2 linked regions of the Homo sapiens genome follow. The protein of the gene in region 1 purifies or fractionates together with the protein of each later gene. This does not show direct contact. Each region holds a gene or a part of one and is shown in the gene's direction. Other genes may lie near its edges.

Region 1 (7,653 bases):
CATCAGGCAGAAGCTGTGTGAGCAAAAGCCTGCTTCCTTACCTGTGAAATGAGGCCTCTATTAGTCAGCCAGGCTGCCACAACAACATATCACAGACTGGGTGGCTTTAAAACAGACTTTTTTCTCACAGTTCTGGAGGCTGAAGTCTGGGATCAAGGTGTTGGCAGGTTTGGTTTCTCCTGAGGCCTCTCTCCTTGGCTTGCAGAGGGCTGCCTTCTGGCTGTGTGCTCACATGACCTTTACTCTGTGCACATGCATCCCTGCTTTCTCTCTGTGTCTTAAAAGGACACCAGTCATATTGGATTAGGGCCCCACCCCTATTACCTCATTAAACCTTAATTATCTCCTCACAGGCCCTGTTTCCAAATACAGTTACATTGTAGGATTAGGCTTCAACCTGTGAATTTGGCAGGACACAATTATGTCCATAGCAAGGGTGATAGCATTTCTGCAATGAGCTTATCAGATAAGGTAACAGATCTCCATACAGCTTGGTCTCCTTTCTTCTCACTTTCATTCTTGAATTAAAATCTGGATTAACACTATTTCAATTGCAAATGACAGGAACCCAATTCAAAGTAACCTAAGCAGAAACTGAATTTATTGAATATGTGACTGACAAGGCTAAGAGGTATACTACTTCAAGCATGGCTGGACCCAGGTGTTTGACATCCATCTGGGATGTGTCTTCCTTTCTGGGTTCCATTTTCCTCCCCTTTCATTATGACAGATGGCCACTAGCAGGTCCAGCTTACATCCTGCCCCAAGGCAACCCAAGAGGCAAAACAGATACTCCTTCCCAATAGTTCCAGCAAAAGCTTGGGAGCAAATCTCAATGCACCAACTTGGATCACATTCCCATCCCCACCCCACTGTGATCAGAGGGGTGGCATACACTGGCTGGCTAGGCCTGGATCATGTCTCCATCTCCATCCCTCAAGCAGGGGCATTCAGAAGTGGAAAGGTGGTCCTTCAGAGGGAAAGCACAGTGCATGAGTCACAGGTCAGCCAGGTGGTGTCTGGGAGACGCTGGAGCCCAGACACCAGGGAGACTAAAACAGCAGCTGTCCTGACTTCCTCTGCATCACGAAACAAGAGTGCACACCTGCCCTTGGCCAAGAAATGGCAGGTGCTCATTTACATCTCATTTTATGATCATTTGCATATCATCTGCAGTACTGGCTGCACCAAGCCCTGAGGTGCAGACCTAAGAGTCTTGAACCTGCATCCTCTTGGCTGCAAGGGGATCATAGAGGCACAACATAAGAAAAGCCCACCAGTTATCGGAGGCAGGTCCAGTGCAGACCCCTGTGGATGTTCCAGGAGCCAGAGAAGCTCGGAAAGGAAGAGCTCTGTAAAGCCTGGCAGCCTGCCTGGAAAAGACAAAATTTGAGTTAAATATTGTGGGGGATAGGGATTGGTTAGGCAGAAAGTCAGAGAAAGGGTTGGGGTGGCAGGTAGGGACAGCAGGAGCTAAGGAGTGATGGTGGAAGTGTGTTAAGAGTGTTGGTTGATCAGGGAGGTGGGAGAGAGATTACAGCAGTGGGGAGGGCATCATATCAGAGAGCCCTGAATGCCAGAGCAAGGAGTGTGGGCTATGCCCATGGACAAAAAGGGAGAAGGGTTTTGAGCAAGAAAGCGACTTGACAAGTTCAGTATTTGGTGGAGATGACTATAAGCAAGTGCAGGATGGAGCAAAAGGGGAGGCTGAGCCTTTCAGGTGGGAGACTCAGCCTCTCAGAAGGGTGAGCAGCAGGGAGGGAGGTAAGGCCTCAAGGCTGCACCAGGAGGCAGAACCCAGCCTTTCCAGCTCTGAGATTTCCCCAGGGGCCCAGCAGCTTCCTCCACTGTGAGATCTCCCAAGAGCAGAGCCGGGGAACTGAAAGAGGACTCCACAAGCCTACCACTGCTCCAAAGCCACCCCACCTCAACAGATTGAAGGGAAGTAGCAGGGGCAGGGCTGGGCCCACAGTGAGGTGTTGCAGGGATGCCCAAGGTCATCCTGGCCCAAAATCCCTGTATAACATCCCTCATGGCCCACCGACTTGATTTGGGTACCCCACAGATGTGGCTCATCTCTGGTTATTGTTATTAGAACTGACTCTTGCATATGTGAAACCAAAGCCTGCCTCTGTTCCACTTAGTGTCCTGGTTCTACCCTTTGGGCCACAAAAAACTACTAGTTCATCCTCCTTCAAGGCCAGGTGTTTCTGCAATAGTGCCCAAATCCCTGGGGGACTTTCCTTTTCTGATGGCTGGACAGTTGTAGTTGCCTCAGAGATTTCCCCATGTAACCCTGTCTCCTTGAGCTTCCCACTCTGCTCATCTCATTTTACCCTCCCCTTCCTAGACACTGCATCTTTGTTAATATAGCCCATGATCACACCCATCCTTTGTAGCGGTGTTCGCTCTGCCTGCAGGTGGGTAGGGAGAGAAAGGAAAATCCAATATAAAATGCATATCTTGCCCCCACTGTGGCCCACAGCCACACTGCCTTTTCCAGACCCTGTCTCAAGCCCCCACTCCAACAAAATGGCCGCAGATGGTCAGGGGTTCTTCCATAAGGATCTGAGCCACAGACAGCGGTAAAGCCGTTACTGTTCCAACAACAGAGATCTAGCAGGCTTTCCCTCCCAGCTGAGAACCCGGGTCCATGCCACAGGGCAGCCTCAGGCTGATGCCTGAACAGAAACACCACCATGCCGGGACCAAGAGCCTGGGTCCCCCAGTGCCCGAGGCAGCCCTAACACACTGTTCAGGCCTAAATACCACCCATGACCTAACGTGGAAGAAGTCAGGTGACAGGTGTGAGAAAGTGTAAAGCAAGTGGCCTCGGCTCAAACCTTCTTTAAAGTAGGGCCGGAATGGCTGAGAAGATGGAGCCGCCCAGGCTGCCCCACAGCAGTAGCAGGTGTTAAACTGTGCTCCTTTCCTGCCGAGGCCTTTTTTTTTTTTTTTTTTTTTTTTTTTTTTAATGAGAGGGAGTCTGAGCTTCCATCAGATTGTCAAAGGATTCAAGACTAAGATTAAGAGCATCCCCCAAAGAGAAGCAGCTGCAGGTTGAGAAGTCCTCGGACCGCCTAATTTCCGCCAGCCCTGGGATTGGTGGCGCCGCCTCTCAGCGCCTCCTTTCCCGGGGAACCTGCAAACCTGGCGCGGCCGAGAGGCGGATTACTGACCCAAATACGGATGGGGATATTGGGGGAGGGGAGCCAGGGCGACAGGGCGGCGGCCCCAGACTGGGAGGGCGGGTCACAGATCCCTCCCAGCCCCCCACTTTCGTAGAGCGTGGGCAGGAGGAACCTCTGGGTTCCGCGGATCAGAAAAACTCCAAAGGCCGGGTTGTGAGTCCCGGGAGGGGAGGTGGAGGGCGGGGGCGGGGAGGGGCGCGGGAGGGGCGGGGGCTTGCTCCGGCCCCGCCCCCTGCGCTCCGGTGCAGGTCGGGCTCCCCCTGGCGGTCCCCGGCCCCGTTCCTCTCCTCGTGCGCCCCCCTCCCGCCGTCCTAGACCCCTGCCTAGCCCAGGTCGGTCTCCGCGGACCCACGGACGGACAGACAGACGGGAGGACGGCCAGCCGCGAGCGCCCGGGCGGCGGGAGGGGGCGGGGAGGCGACGGCCGTGGCGTGAGGAGCAGGAGCAGGTGCAGCGGCGGCGGCGGGCGGGGCCGGGACCCGGCGCGGAGCGGGAGCCGCGGCGCGGGCGGGCGGCAGGGACCGGGAGGCCGCGACTCGGAGTCAGCCCCGCCGGGTCGCGCGCAGGTCCGGGGAGCCGCGGTTGAGCCGGGTGGGGTGGTGACTCCAGAGAACGCAGGATCCCAAGGAGACAGAGAGGACGAGAGCTGGAGGGGGATCCGGAAAGCGGCGGGGGCGCTCCGGGAGGGGTGGAGTAGGACATAGGGGGCGCACCTGGAGGAGAGACGGGGCGGGGGTGGCCAGGACCTGAGCTGGAGCCTGGGAGCCCGAAGGCCAGACAGGTGAGGCGGGAGACCCGGAGGTGGGGGTGAGGTCCGGTTAGTGGGAGAGATCCGGAGGTGTTAAGTTCTGAGCTGGGCTGGGAAGGCAGGCTGGGCGGGGAGAAGGGCTCTTAGCGGGAGGCCCAGGGGTGGTCAGCTGGTGGGGGAAGCTGGGGGAGGACGCAGGGCCAGGTGGAGAGCCGGCAGGGTTGGGGGCTCCCTAGGCGCCAGGCAGGTGGGCTCAAGGGTGAGGCTGTTTTTTTTGTTTTGTTTTTTGTTTTTGAGACGGAGTCTCGCTCTGTCGCCCAGGCTGGAGTGCAGTGGCGTGATCTTGGCTCACTGCAACCTCCGCCTCTCGGGTTCAAGCGATTCTCCTGCCTCAGCTTCCTGAGTAGCTGGGATTACAGGTGCGCACCACCATGCCCGGCTAACTTTTGTATTTTTAGTAGAGATGGGGTTTCACCATGTTGGTCAGGCTGGTCTCGAACTCCTGACCTAGTGATCTGCCCTCCTCAGCCTCCCAACGTACTGGGATTACAGGCGTGAGCCACCGCGCCCGGCCTGAGGCTGGTATTAAGAAGTGAAGTGGGACCCAGGTGGAGGTAAGGAAGAGTCTGGTGGGGAGTTATCTCAGAAGTGAGGCCAGCACAGGCTGAGTGCAGCCCCAGGGTGAGAAGGTGCCCACCGAGAGGACTCTGCAGTGAGGCCCTAGGCCACGTCCGAGGGGTGCCTCCGATGGGGGAAGCCCCTCCCTGGGGGTCACCGGAGCCATGCTGTCCCGCAAGGGCATCATCCCCGAGGAATACGTGCTGACACGCCTGGCAGAGGACCCTGCCAAGCCCAGGTACCGTGCCCGCCAGCGGAGGGCCCGCTTTGTGTCCAAGAAAGGCAACTGCAACGTGGCCCACAAGAACATCCGGGAGCAGGGCCGCTTCCTGCAGGACGTGTTCACCACGCTGGTGGACCTCAAGTGGCCACACACATTGCTCATCTTCACCATGTCCTTCCTGTGCAGCTGGCTGCTCTTCGCCATGGCCTGGTGGCTCATCGCCTTCGCCCACGGTGACCTGGCCCCCAGCGAGGGCACTGCTGAGCCCTGTGTCACCAGCATCCACTCCTTCTCGTCTGCCTTCCTTTTCTCCATTGAGGTCCAAGTGACTATTGGCTTTGGGGGGCGCATGGTGACTGAGGAGTGCCCACTGGCCATCCTGATCCTCATCGTGCAGAACATCGTGGGGCTCATGATCAACGCCATCATGCTTGGCTGCATCTTCATGAAGACTGCCCAAGCCCACCGCAGGGCTGAGACCCTCATCTTCAGCAAGCATGCGGTGATCGCCCTGCGCCACGGCCGCCTCTGCTTCATGCTACGTGTGGGTGACCTCCGCAAGAGCATGATCATCAGCGCCACCATCCACATGCAGGTGGTACGCAAGACCACCAGCCCCGAGGGCGAGGTGGTGCCCCTCCACCAGGTGGACATCCCCATGGAGAACGGCGTGGGTGGCAACAGCATCTTCCTGGTGGCCCCGCTGATCATCTACCATGTCATTGATGCCAACAGCCCACTCTACGACCTGGCACCCAGCGACCTGCACCACCACCAGGACCTCGAGATCATCGTCATCCTGGAAGGCGTGGTGGAAACCACGGGCATCACCACCCAGGCCCGCACCTCCTACCTGGCCGATGAGATCCTGTGGGGCCAGCGCTTTGTGCCCATTGTAGCTGAGGAGGACGGACGTTACTCTGTGGACTACTCCAAGTTTGGCAACACCGTCAAAGTGCCCACACCACTCTGCACGGCCCGCCAGCTTGATGAGGACCACAGCCTACTGGAAGCTCTGACCCTCGCCTCAGCCCGCGGGCCCCTGCGCAAGCGCAGCGTGCCCATGGCCAAGGCCAAGCCCAAGTTCAGCATCTCTCCAGATTCCCTGTCCTGAGCCATGGTCTCTCGGGCCCCCCACACGCGTGTGTACACACGGACCATGTGGTATGTAGCCCGGCCAGGGCCTGGTGTGAGGCTGGGCCAGCCTCAGCTCAGCCTCCCCCTGCTGCTCATCCAGGGTGTTACAAGGCACTTGTCACTATGCTATTTCTGGCCTCAGCAGGAACCTGTACTGGGTTATTTTTGTCCCTGCTCCTCCCAACCCAATTCAGGACTGGCTCACCCCTCTCCCCCGCCCAAGGCTGCAGAGGCTGTGGGAGGTACTGGGCCCTAGAGCTGTGCGTCCAGCCAGTCCTGGGTCCCCACGATTGACCAGCCACACTCTGGGCCGGTGGCTGGGGAAGAACAATCCCCGAGGGCTGCTGCTTTGCGTCTGTGGCTCCAAGAAGTGCCTGTGGTCAGGCCCCAGCTCTACTTGGTCCCTGAAAAAGCACCTGGCTAAGGGCTGGGCCTGGCCAGCAGGGAGGGCAGTTGATGAGAGAGGGTGTTCCCGCTGGAGGGTTGGTGCTGTGGAGCCTACACCGGCAGGGACAGCCTGGGGCTGACAGGGCTCCCCTCCGAGGGCCAGTTTCAGGTCTGGAAGGGGAGGAAGCAGGGGAAGGTGACCTGAGGAGGCTCGGCTTTGTAGAGCCCCGCTCAGGCACAGGGAGGAGGAGATGCCAGGGCTCCTGCCTTTTGCCACATCGGCCTCGTGCAGTGAGGGCTCTGTGGGCTGGGGCTGCTGCCCCTGCCTACCTCCTGCCTGTCCCCAGAGGCTGAGGAGAGGGGGTACTGTGCCCACCACACATGATTAGGCCTCAGACCCAACTCTGGTCCTGGCTCCACAACAGTGGCTGCCACTCACTTTGTCCAGAAGGTGGCTTGGGGGTGGATATCTTTGGGTTGCTGGAAAAGGTGTGGGAAGGTTCAGGATGGTGGGAGGGACTGAGGTCCCTGAGGTGAAGAGGCCCTTGGTCCTGACGGGTTTGACCCGTGCCTGGACCCTTGGAGCAGTGTTGTGTGAACTTGCCTAGAACTCTGCCTTCTCCGTTGTCAATAAAGCCTCCCCCTCATGACCTAAACTCTGGGCTTTTCTTGCTGGGGAGGCAGCAAGCATGCTGGTGGGAAGGGAGGCAGGGACTGGCAGCTGCCACCCCCTTCAAGAGGCGCCATAGACCCTAGCGGGGAGGGCAGGGGAGGGACGGAAGGCTGGCACCTCTTCCACCAGTTCAGGGGGACTTTCCCCTCTCCTGTCTCAGGTGGCCCAGCCCTGTCAGCCTGTCTGGCCAACTCAGCCTTTGGGCACTCACCAGGCTTTGCAGCCCTGGGCTCTGTCTCTACTCCCAGGGACCTGCTGGAAGGCTGGAGTGCCCAGGGAGAGGTATAGAGGTGTCATAGGCATTAGTGTAGTAATTGGAGCACTAACTCTCGAGCCAACTGCCTGGGTTCGAATCCTGGCTCTAGCTGTATGACTTTTGTCAAGTAACTTAGCCTCTCTGTGTCTCAGTTGCCTCTTCTATAACATGGATGCTAATAGTACCTACCTCATAGAATTGTTTTGGAAGTAAATGAAAAATATGTAAAATGCTGAAGTGCCTGGTCTACAGTAAGTGCTCAATAAATGTTAACTATTGTGATTGCTGCTGAATCAGCTACATGCTGAGGAAACGGCCAAACAAGTGTTAAAGAGAGACGGTGCTTTTATTTTGCCCTTGGTCATGTTTCTTTGCCAGGTCTTTCTTTCCACACGGTGTCCCCTCCTAGCTGAGACCACG
Region 2 (8,444 bases), on another chromosome or scaffold:
TTACCCAGGCTGGAGTGGAGTGGTGCCATCGTAGCTCACTACAGCCTCGAACGCCTGGGCTCAAGTAATCCTCCCACCTTGGCCTCCCAAAGTGTTGGGATTACAGGCATGAGCCACAGCACTCAGCCTACAACTGTTAAATGTAGAAACCAGAGTGTAAACATGTTTCTCAGAAGCAAGGGTACAAAGAGCTAAAGAACAGCTATGAGGCTGGGTGTGGTGGTGAGCGCCTATAGTTTGTGCTACTCTGGAGGCTGAGTCAGTAGGATTGCTTGAGCCAAGTTAGAGGCTGTAGTGTGCCACAACAGCCACTGTGAATAGCCACAGCACTCCAGTCTGGGCAACATAGTGAGATCGTGTCTCAAAAAAAAAAAAGAAACAGCTATGAGTTGAAAGAGACTGTGAGGCTGTTTATAAAGAACAGGACTCAAGGGTCTGGAAGGACAGAACAGGGAAGTGCGTCGTTTTTATATAAACTATTTAACTTTTAAGACTATTATATCTGAAACTTTGAAAAATAATTTTTAAAATTTGGATAGCAGCCAGGTGCAGTGGCTCATGCCTATAATTACAGCATTTTGAGAGACCAAGTTGGGAGGATTGCTTGTACTCAGGAATTCAAGACCAGCCTGGGCAACATATGCTACAAAAATTTTAAAAACTAGCAGGGCATGGTGATATACACCTGTAGTCCCAGCTACTCAGGAGGCTGAGGCAGGAGGCTCACTTGAACCTGGGAGGTTGAGATTTCAGTGAGCCATGATTGCGCAACTGTGCTCCAGCCTGGTTGACAGAGTGAGACCCTGTCTTAAATAAATAAATTAATTTAATTAAATAAAATTTGGATGGTACTATTTAACTTAAAAACAGCAATCTTACCTCAGAGTTTACCTAAAGATACATATACGCAAAATAAGAATAAAATATCAGTTTGTCTTCTGGTATTCTCCCTAGATGCCACTCCCCACCTCCCTTAAAAAATAACTATGTACCTTTTCATGAACTTAAATAACTACCTATATTTTCACAGCTGTTTATCTAGGCTTAATTGTTGACAACAGCATGAAAAGAAAAACTGGTTCTGTTTGTTACAAAAAAAATATTAAATGATGCCATGTGAGCATTTGAAACGCATACCAATAAAAACTACCACAGCAAGTACAGGTTTATCCAAGTAAAGGTTTTGAAAAATGGTGAAGGGCCATTATTTGAGAAGTGTATGCCATGATTTTTGGCTCTCCTATGGCTCACAGGCCTATAAATGATTCATTCATTTAATTTATTCATATAACACAGCTTTATACATTTCCTTTTTACATTTGAGGTACTATGCTAAATTCTAAATTTCCTGAAATCTGTATTCCTTTTTTTTTTTTTTTTTGAGATGGAGTTACACTCTTGCTGCCCAGGCTAAAGTGCAATAGCGCAATCTCGGCTCACTGCAACCTCTGCCTCCCAGGTTCAAGCGATTCTCCTGCCTCAGGCTACCAAGTAGCTGGGATTGTGGGCGTGTGCCACCACACCCAGCTAATTTTGTATTTTTAGTAGGGACAGGGTTTCTCCATGTTGGTCAGGCTGGTCTTGAACTCCCGACTGCAGGTGATCTGCCTGCCTCAGCTTCCCAAAGTGCTGAGGTGACAGGCCGTGAGCCACTGCGCCCGGCCTTGAAATCTGTATTATTCTTATTTATATTTCATGGCCTAAAATACCGTAAAATGCTTAAACCAGCAGCATATATTTTAATCTATTAACATCTCCAATTCTTTTTTAGGCAGAAAATTCAAATTTAAGAACAGGATTTATTGTTTATGGATTGACATGGAGATCAAAAGCACACACAACTCCTAAATTCAACATTCTGAAAAAGCTCTCCATTATCTTTTCTAATTTTCCTGTTGTCCAAGAGTAGGATGTGGGTGGAGGATTACCTAGGTGCCGAGGCAAGAGACTGAAGGCACAAACTGTTTCAGTATAATAAAGAAAATAGTTAGAATAAGAATAGTCATAATACAAATTAGATATAGAGATGATCATGGACAATTATCAATCATTATTATAAACATGATTAATCATTAGCTTTTAATATTACTCTTTGTTGCATTACTAATATAACCTAGGAATAACCAGCGGGTATAGGGTCAGGTGCTGAAGGGACATTGTGAGAAGTGACCTAGAAGACAAGAGGTGAGCCTTCGGTCACGCCCGCGTAAGGGCCGCTTGAGGGCTCCTTGGTCAAGCGGTAACGCCAGTGTCTGGGAAGGCACCCGTTACTTAGCAGACCGTGAAAGGGAGTCTCCTTTCCTTGGAGGAGTCAGGGAACACTGCTCCACCAGCTTCTTGTGGAAGGCTGGATATTATCCAGGCCTGCCTGCAGTCCTGGGGCCTAAATCCCTCCCTGTGGTGCTGTGCTTCAATGGTCACGTTCCTTGTCCACTTTCATGCTCCTCCCATACTCCTGGTTCCTCTTTGAAGCTCGTAGTAGATAGCGGTAGAAGAAACAGTGAAAGTCTTAAAGTCTTTGATCTTTCTTGTAAGTGCAGAGAAGAAAATGCTGACGTATGCTGCCTTCTCTCTCTGCTTCAGCTACCTAAAAGAGAAGGCCCCCGCCATCCTGTAATCACGTGACTTGCTTCATCTTGTCAATCACTTAAAAGATTCACCCTCCTTACCCTGCCCCCTTGTCTTGTATGCAATAAATATCAGCGAGCCCAGCCGTTCGGGGCCACTACCGGTCTCCGCATCTTTACGGTAGCGGTCCGCCGGGCCTAGCTGTTTTCTCTTTATCTCTCTGTCTTGTGTCTTTATTTATTACAATCTCTCGTCTCTGAACACGGGGAGAACACCCGCTAAGCCCCGTAAGGCTGGACCCTACAGTTGGACATATACCATAGTATCATGTCAATGCGGATCACAAGGTCAGAAGTTAGAGACCAGCCTGGCCAAGGTAGTGAAACCTCGTCTTTACTAAAAATACAAAAAAAATTAGCTGGACCTGGTGGCGTGCGCCTGTAGTCCCAGCTACTTGGGAGGCTGAGGCAGGAGAATCACTTGAACCCGGGAGGTGGAGGTTGCAATGAGCTGAGATGGCGCCACTGTACTATAGCCTGGGTGACAAAGCGAGACTGCGTCTCAAGTGGGAAAAAAAAAAAAAAAAAAAAAAAAAGGGGCACAGTCTTCTGCATTCTCAGGTAAACAAGAATATAAGTATCCAACATTCATGTATTATATGTAATACATATTATGTGTGGCCGGGCATGGTGGCTCACGCCTGTAATCCTAGCACTTTGGGGGCCGAGGTGGGCAGATCACGAGGTCAGGAGATCAAGACCATCCTGGCTAACACGGTGAAACCCCGTCTCTACTAAAAATACAAAAAGTTAGCTGGGCGTGGTGGCGGGCGCCTGTAGTCCCAGCTACTCAGGAGGCTGAGGCAGGAGAATGGCGTGAACCCGGGAGGCGGAGCTTGCAGTGAGCCGAGATCGCGCCACTGCACGCCAGCCTGGGCGACAGAGCAAGACTCCGTCTCAAAAACAACAACAACAACAAATTAGCCAGGCATGGTGGCGGGCGCCTATAGTCCCAGCTACTCGGGAGGCTGAGGCAGGAGAATCGCTTGAACCCGGGAGGCGGAGGTTGCAGTGAGCCAAGATCGTGCCACTGCACTCCAGCCTGGGCGACAGAGAGAGACTCCGTTTCAAAAAAAAAAAAAAACAAAAGCAAAAACAAAAACAAAAAAACATATAAGTATGTATTAAAAAATAGCAATAAGAAAAAAAAAGACAGTAAGCTCCATGAAGATATAAGCTCCGTGATCCACTATGGCATCTCCAGTGACAGACAGCATCCAGCAACTTACTTGGTACTAAAATGTATTAAAGGAATGAATGAAATACTACTTTGCAATCTTGTCTGCCTTCTCTAACCAACAGAGGTGCAAAAATATCACATTCTAATTATGTATCAGGTATTTATATGTCTGCGAAGGAAGACCTGTCTCGTTAATTTTTTATCCCCAACAGCCTAGAAAATGTTGAAAGAAAAAAGATGGGGGAAAAAGCCCTTTTCTGTAACAAGTTAGAATAGGACCCACATACATTTTGTTACTAACAAAACGTCCAGCTTGTCTTTCTTCTTTGAAAACTGCATGGCCTTAAGAGGAGTCCATTCTAATTAGGAAAAAAGTCACCTTTTCAGAAGCAGGCGCTTCCCACTCCATGCAAAGTGAAGCCAAGTTAGCAAAACCGCAAAGACTTGGCTAATTCAAATACAAGCTAATTTATTATTATTGGCGCAAATTAGCCACTTTCTTTTGCTACGCATGTCAATGTCCACAATCATACCGACCCTTTCCTGTAGGGCGAATGTCTCACCAGTAGCTGGTGAGAAGCACAGCTCTTCTCAGCCAAAACCGACAGAGACTGGAATTTGTGCAGTGCAGTAATCCAAAGCCGTCGAGTAGATATGCCTGCTTTAAAATCTGCATCTCGTAAGAAATGCCTTAATTTTCCATATTAGGAGCTGAGAAACCAAGTCCCCTGAGCCCTTCAGGGACAAGTTCTTTTCCAAATACTACAACCACCTCCAACCACCCAACAATGCCTCAGGCCGAGGGTGGGCCACACGCGACCCAGCGCTAAAGGGTCACAGCCAAGCTGTCCGCCTCCTGCCTTCCCTTTAAAGAAGCCGCACACAAGGGAGCTGCCCGGGAGTTCAACTTCCGGCCACATAGTGAGAGGATGTTTTCCTACTGGAGCTGAGCCGCGGGGGCGCGCCCCCCGGCCGCGCCCTCCTAGCCACGCCCTCCACGCCCGGCCTTCCGAGAGCGAGCTCGGTCGGACGCACGGAAAGGGCTGGGCCACGTGGGCGGCTGCTGAGTGGTTCGCCTTCGCCTCTCAGCGCGCAGTCAGGCGGAGGCAAGCTCAGAGCGCACGGACAGAGCGGTAGCGCGCGCCCGCGCGCGTTCTTAGTACTCTCCCCGGTGACGTGCCTGACCGAGGCCGCGCCAGGGCGCTGTTGCTGCCAATACAGCTGTCATGGCGTCCAAGGCGCTGGCTGCGGAGAAGTGGCCGCGGTCTCCATAGAGCTGGGGGCGGGCGGCCCGGTATGGAGAGCAGCCCCGAGAGCCTGCAGCCGCTAGAACACGGGGTGGCGGCCGGGCCAGCGTCAGGGACAGGTTCTTCGCAGGAAGGGCTACAGGAGACCAGGCTCGCCGCTGGTGATGGTCCTGGGGTATGGGCGGCGGAGACCAGCGGCGGGAATGGGCTGGGGGCGGCGGCCGCCAGGAGGAGCCTCCCGGACTCGGCTTCTCCCGCGGGCTCTCCTGAGGTTCCCGGACCCTGCAGCTCCTCCGCGGGTTTGGACTTGAAGGACAGTGGTTTGGAGAGTCCTGCTGCCGCCGAGGCGCCTCTGAGAGGGCAGTACAAGGTGACCGCCTCCCCGGAGACAGCCGTGGCCGGAGTGGGTCATGAGTTGGGTACCGCCGGAGACGCGGGAGCCCGCCCGGATCTCGCCGGCACCTGCCAAGCAGAACTGACCGCCGCCGGCTCCGAAGAGCCCAGCAGCGCCGGCGGCCTCAGCAGCAGTTGCAGCGACCCGAGCCCTCCTGGGGAATCTCCGAGCCTGGACTCTCTGGAGTCGTTCTCTAACCTGCATTCTTTTCCCAGTAGCTGCGAGTTCAATAGTGAGGAGGGAGCGGAGAACAGGGTCCCTGAGGAGGAGGAGGGCGCGGCGGTGTTGCCCGGGGCTGTTCCTCTGTGCAAGGAGGAGGAGGGGGAGGAGACCGCTCAGGTGCTGGCGGCCTCCAAGGAACGCTTCCCGGGACAATCTGTGTATCACATCAAGTGGATCCAGTGGAAGGAAGAGAACACACCCATCATCACCCAGAATGAGAACGGACCCTGCCCCTTGCTGGCCATCCTCAATGTTTTGCTCCTGGCCTGGAAGGTACATTCTGCAGCTTTCTACTTCCTACAGCTTTTGGGGTGGAGGAAAACGGGGTGAGGGAGCTGCTGCATGTCAGGTGATGGCTTCCTTTCTTTCCTCATTCATCAGTCCCCTTCTTACATGAAATTCATTCCAAGACTTCCATGTTGAAGGAATATTCCTTTATACATATATCGAAAAGAATTGCCCCTAACCTCAGTCTTCTCTTGTAGTGTTTAAGAGTTCAACATTCAATTGTGGTTGATACACTTAGAAACAAGAAGGACTTAGAGCATCTTAAATCTTATGATTATTTTAAACTATAATTTCCTACATTTTCTTACTGACCTTATCACATATGCAAAAAAGTGAAGAATTGGAGAAAGTAATCTTCAGAAGTTACCATCAATCCGTGATATCATGGACTAAGTTTTCATGGTTATATTTAGTTTGATTTCCAACTAATGCCCCATTTGTGTGTAGATACTTAAGAGAATGGTGATGGGGAAGATGTGGCTCTTTAGACAAATTCCATTTAAGGAAAAGCATTGGTCTGAGACCCAATTACCGTAACTTCTTGGTTTTCAAAGATTGTTTTCATTTTATGCATGATTTTTACTTGCCTCATTTCTTTGGCTCTCCTTAAATGGTTTGGCATTATTACCAGTAACCATGCATCCGAATGTGTTAAGGGAGCTAAAACTCTAAAGAACTAAAATAAGAAAAGGTATGTCTAAGGTGAAGGAGCAAAAAAGGGAAAGACCCTTAAAAATAGGTATGTTGAGGACTCAGAGCGAGTTACCTGTCAAATGAAGTGTCTCATTTAAGCTTGCAGTGTTAGGGTGCTGAGAAGATGCATCTCACAGCACCTATTTTATTTTCAAATTGATAATTATATCTGTAGATGCAATGTTTCCTAGGAAAAAAAAACAAAACAAACTGGGTGTGGTGGTGTGCGCCTGTAATCCCAGCTACTCCGTAAGCTCAGCTACTCTGGAGGCTGACACAAGACAATCGCTTGAGCCCAGAAGTTTGAGACCAGCCTGGGCAATACAGTGAGACCCTATATTAAAAGAAAAAGAAAAATAACCTGGATTCTTCTAAACACTTAGGTAGAAAATCAAGTAAAGGGAATAGTGTTTATCAAACATGCCTTTATCTTCCTGTCGCTAGCAAGGACTGATAGAAAAGAAATAAAATTAGAAACCTTGCCATTGTCTGGTGCATAATGGCACTGAGATGTTTTAAGTGAAGACAGTACCTGCCCTTAAAAGGCTGTCAAGCTGTTTGAGGTGGCATCATTAACTTACTGGAAACTGTTTAAGAACAAGAAATAGTAAGTTATATGAGACAAGTGGTAGGTAAACTGTGGTAAATCTGTGGAAATGCATTTGATATTCAAAAAGGGGACATTTTCCTTTGGTATGGCGTAGTCCTAGAAAACTTCATGGGATTTATGGGTCTTGAACCAATCTTTTTTTTTTTCGTTTGTTTGTTTGTTTTAAAGACAAATTAGAGCAATTTAACAGATCTTTTAAGGAAGAGAATTTAGAATAACAGGGAAATGGAATTCCCAGGGGAGAGAAGAGTATAAACCAAAGGAATGAAAATAGAATGGATATTGTGTGTTTATATGTTTATTACATGACAGAAGTGGTAAGCTAATGTTGGAGAATAATGAAAAATAAGGTTGAAAAGGTGAACAAGAGCCATTTGATAAGGGCCCTCAACTAGGGAGTTAGTTAGACTTGCTCTAACGGGCCAGAGTCCCTAATCTTTTTTGTAGGAAGGAATAACTATTATTTTCCTTTAGTCTTTTTTCTTATGTAGTACTGCAGAAATTCAGAGGAAAGGGCAAGTACTGTGGTGTGGAGTATTTGGGGATAGATGCATATTAAACTGACTCATTCAATTCAGACAGATTCAAGTGAATGATCAAGTGTTTGGGTTCCCACTGTGCGTGAGGTACTAGAAATGCAAAGATGAGGCCGGGCGCGGTGGCTCACGCCTGTATTCCCAGCATTTCGGGAGGCCGAGGCGGGTGGATCACCTGAGGTCAGGAGTTCGAGACCACCCTGGCCAACATGGTGAAACCCCGTCTCTACTAAACATACAAAAAATTAGACGGGCATGGTGGTGGGCACCTGTAATCCCAGCTACTTGGGAGGTTGAGGCAGGAGAATCTCTTGAACCCAGGAGGTGGAGGTTGCGGTTAGCCGAGATCACGCCACTGCACTCCAGCCTGGGCAACAAGAGTGAAACCCCGTCCCAAAAAAAGAAAAAAAAAAAAAAAAAAGGAAATGCAAAGATGAGTATGATGCAAATCTGCCCTCGTGTAGCTGACTATCTAGTGGGATGACAGACATATAAACAATAATTACAGTGCAATGTGAGAAGCTCTAATATGCTATGGAAGTGCAGAGAAAACGGTAATTGGGGAGGGGATTATCAAGGGAAGACTTCATAGAAGAGATAACCTGTGAACTAGATCCAAAGGATGAGTGAGAGAAGACCTTCTGGGC

Evidence for each region.
Region 2: the proteins of KCNJ11 (region 1) and MINDY2 purify together in Homo sapiens (affinity purification with mass spectrometry; 3 studies listed by BioGRID and IntAct, with this or other methods). This does not show direct contact.

Annotation. Positions count from the first base shown.
Region 1 is NC_000011.10:17,385,160-17,392,812, reverse strand, and holds KCNJ11 (ATP-sensitive inward rectifier potassium channel 11), read left to right. Parts: upstream 1-4,153; 5' UTR 4,154-4,721; coding exon 4,722-5,894; 3' UTR 5,895-7,565; downstream 7,566-7,653. UniProt on the Homo sapiens protein: Inward rectifier potassium channel that forms the pore of ATP-sensitive potassium channels (KATP), regulating potassium permeability as a function of cytoplasmic ATP and ADP concentrations in many different cells.
Region 2 is NC_000015.10:58,766,293-58,774,736, forward strand, and holds the start of MINDY2 (ubiquitin carboxyl-terminal hydrolase MINDY-2), read left to right. Parts: upstream 1-5,009; 5' UTR 5,010-5,103; coding exon 5,104-5,943; intron 5,944-8,444. UniProt on the Homo sapiens protein: Hydrolase that can remove 'Lys-48'-linked conjugated ubiquitin from proteins. Binds to polyubiquitin chains of different linkage types, including 'Lys-6', 'Lys-11', 'Lys-29', 'Lys-33', 'Lys-48' and 'Lys-63'.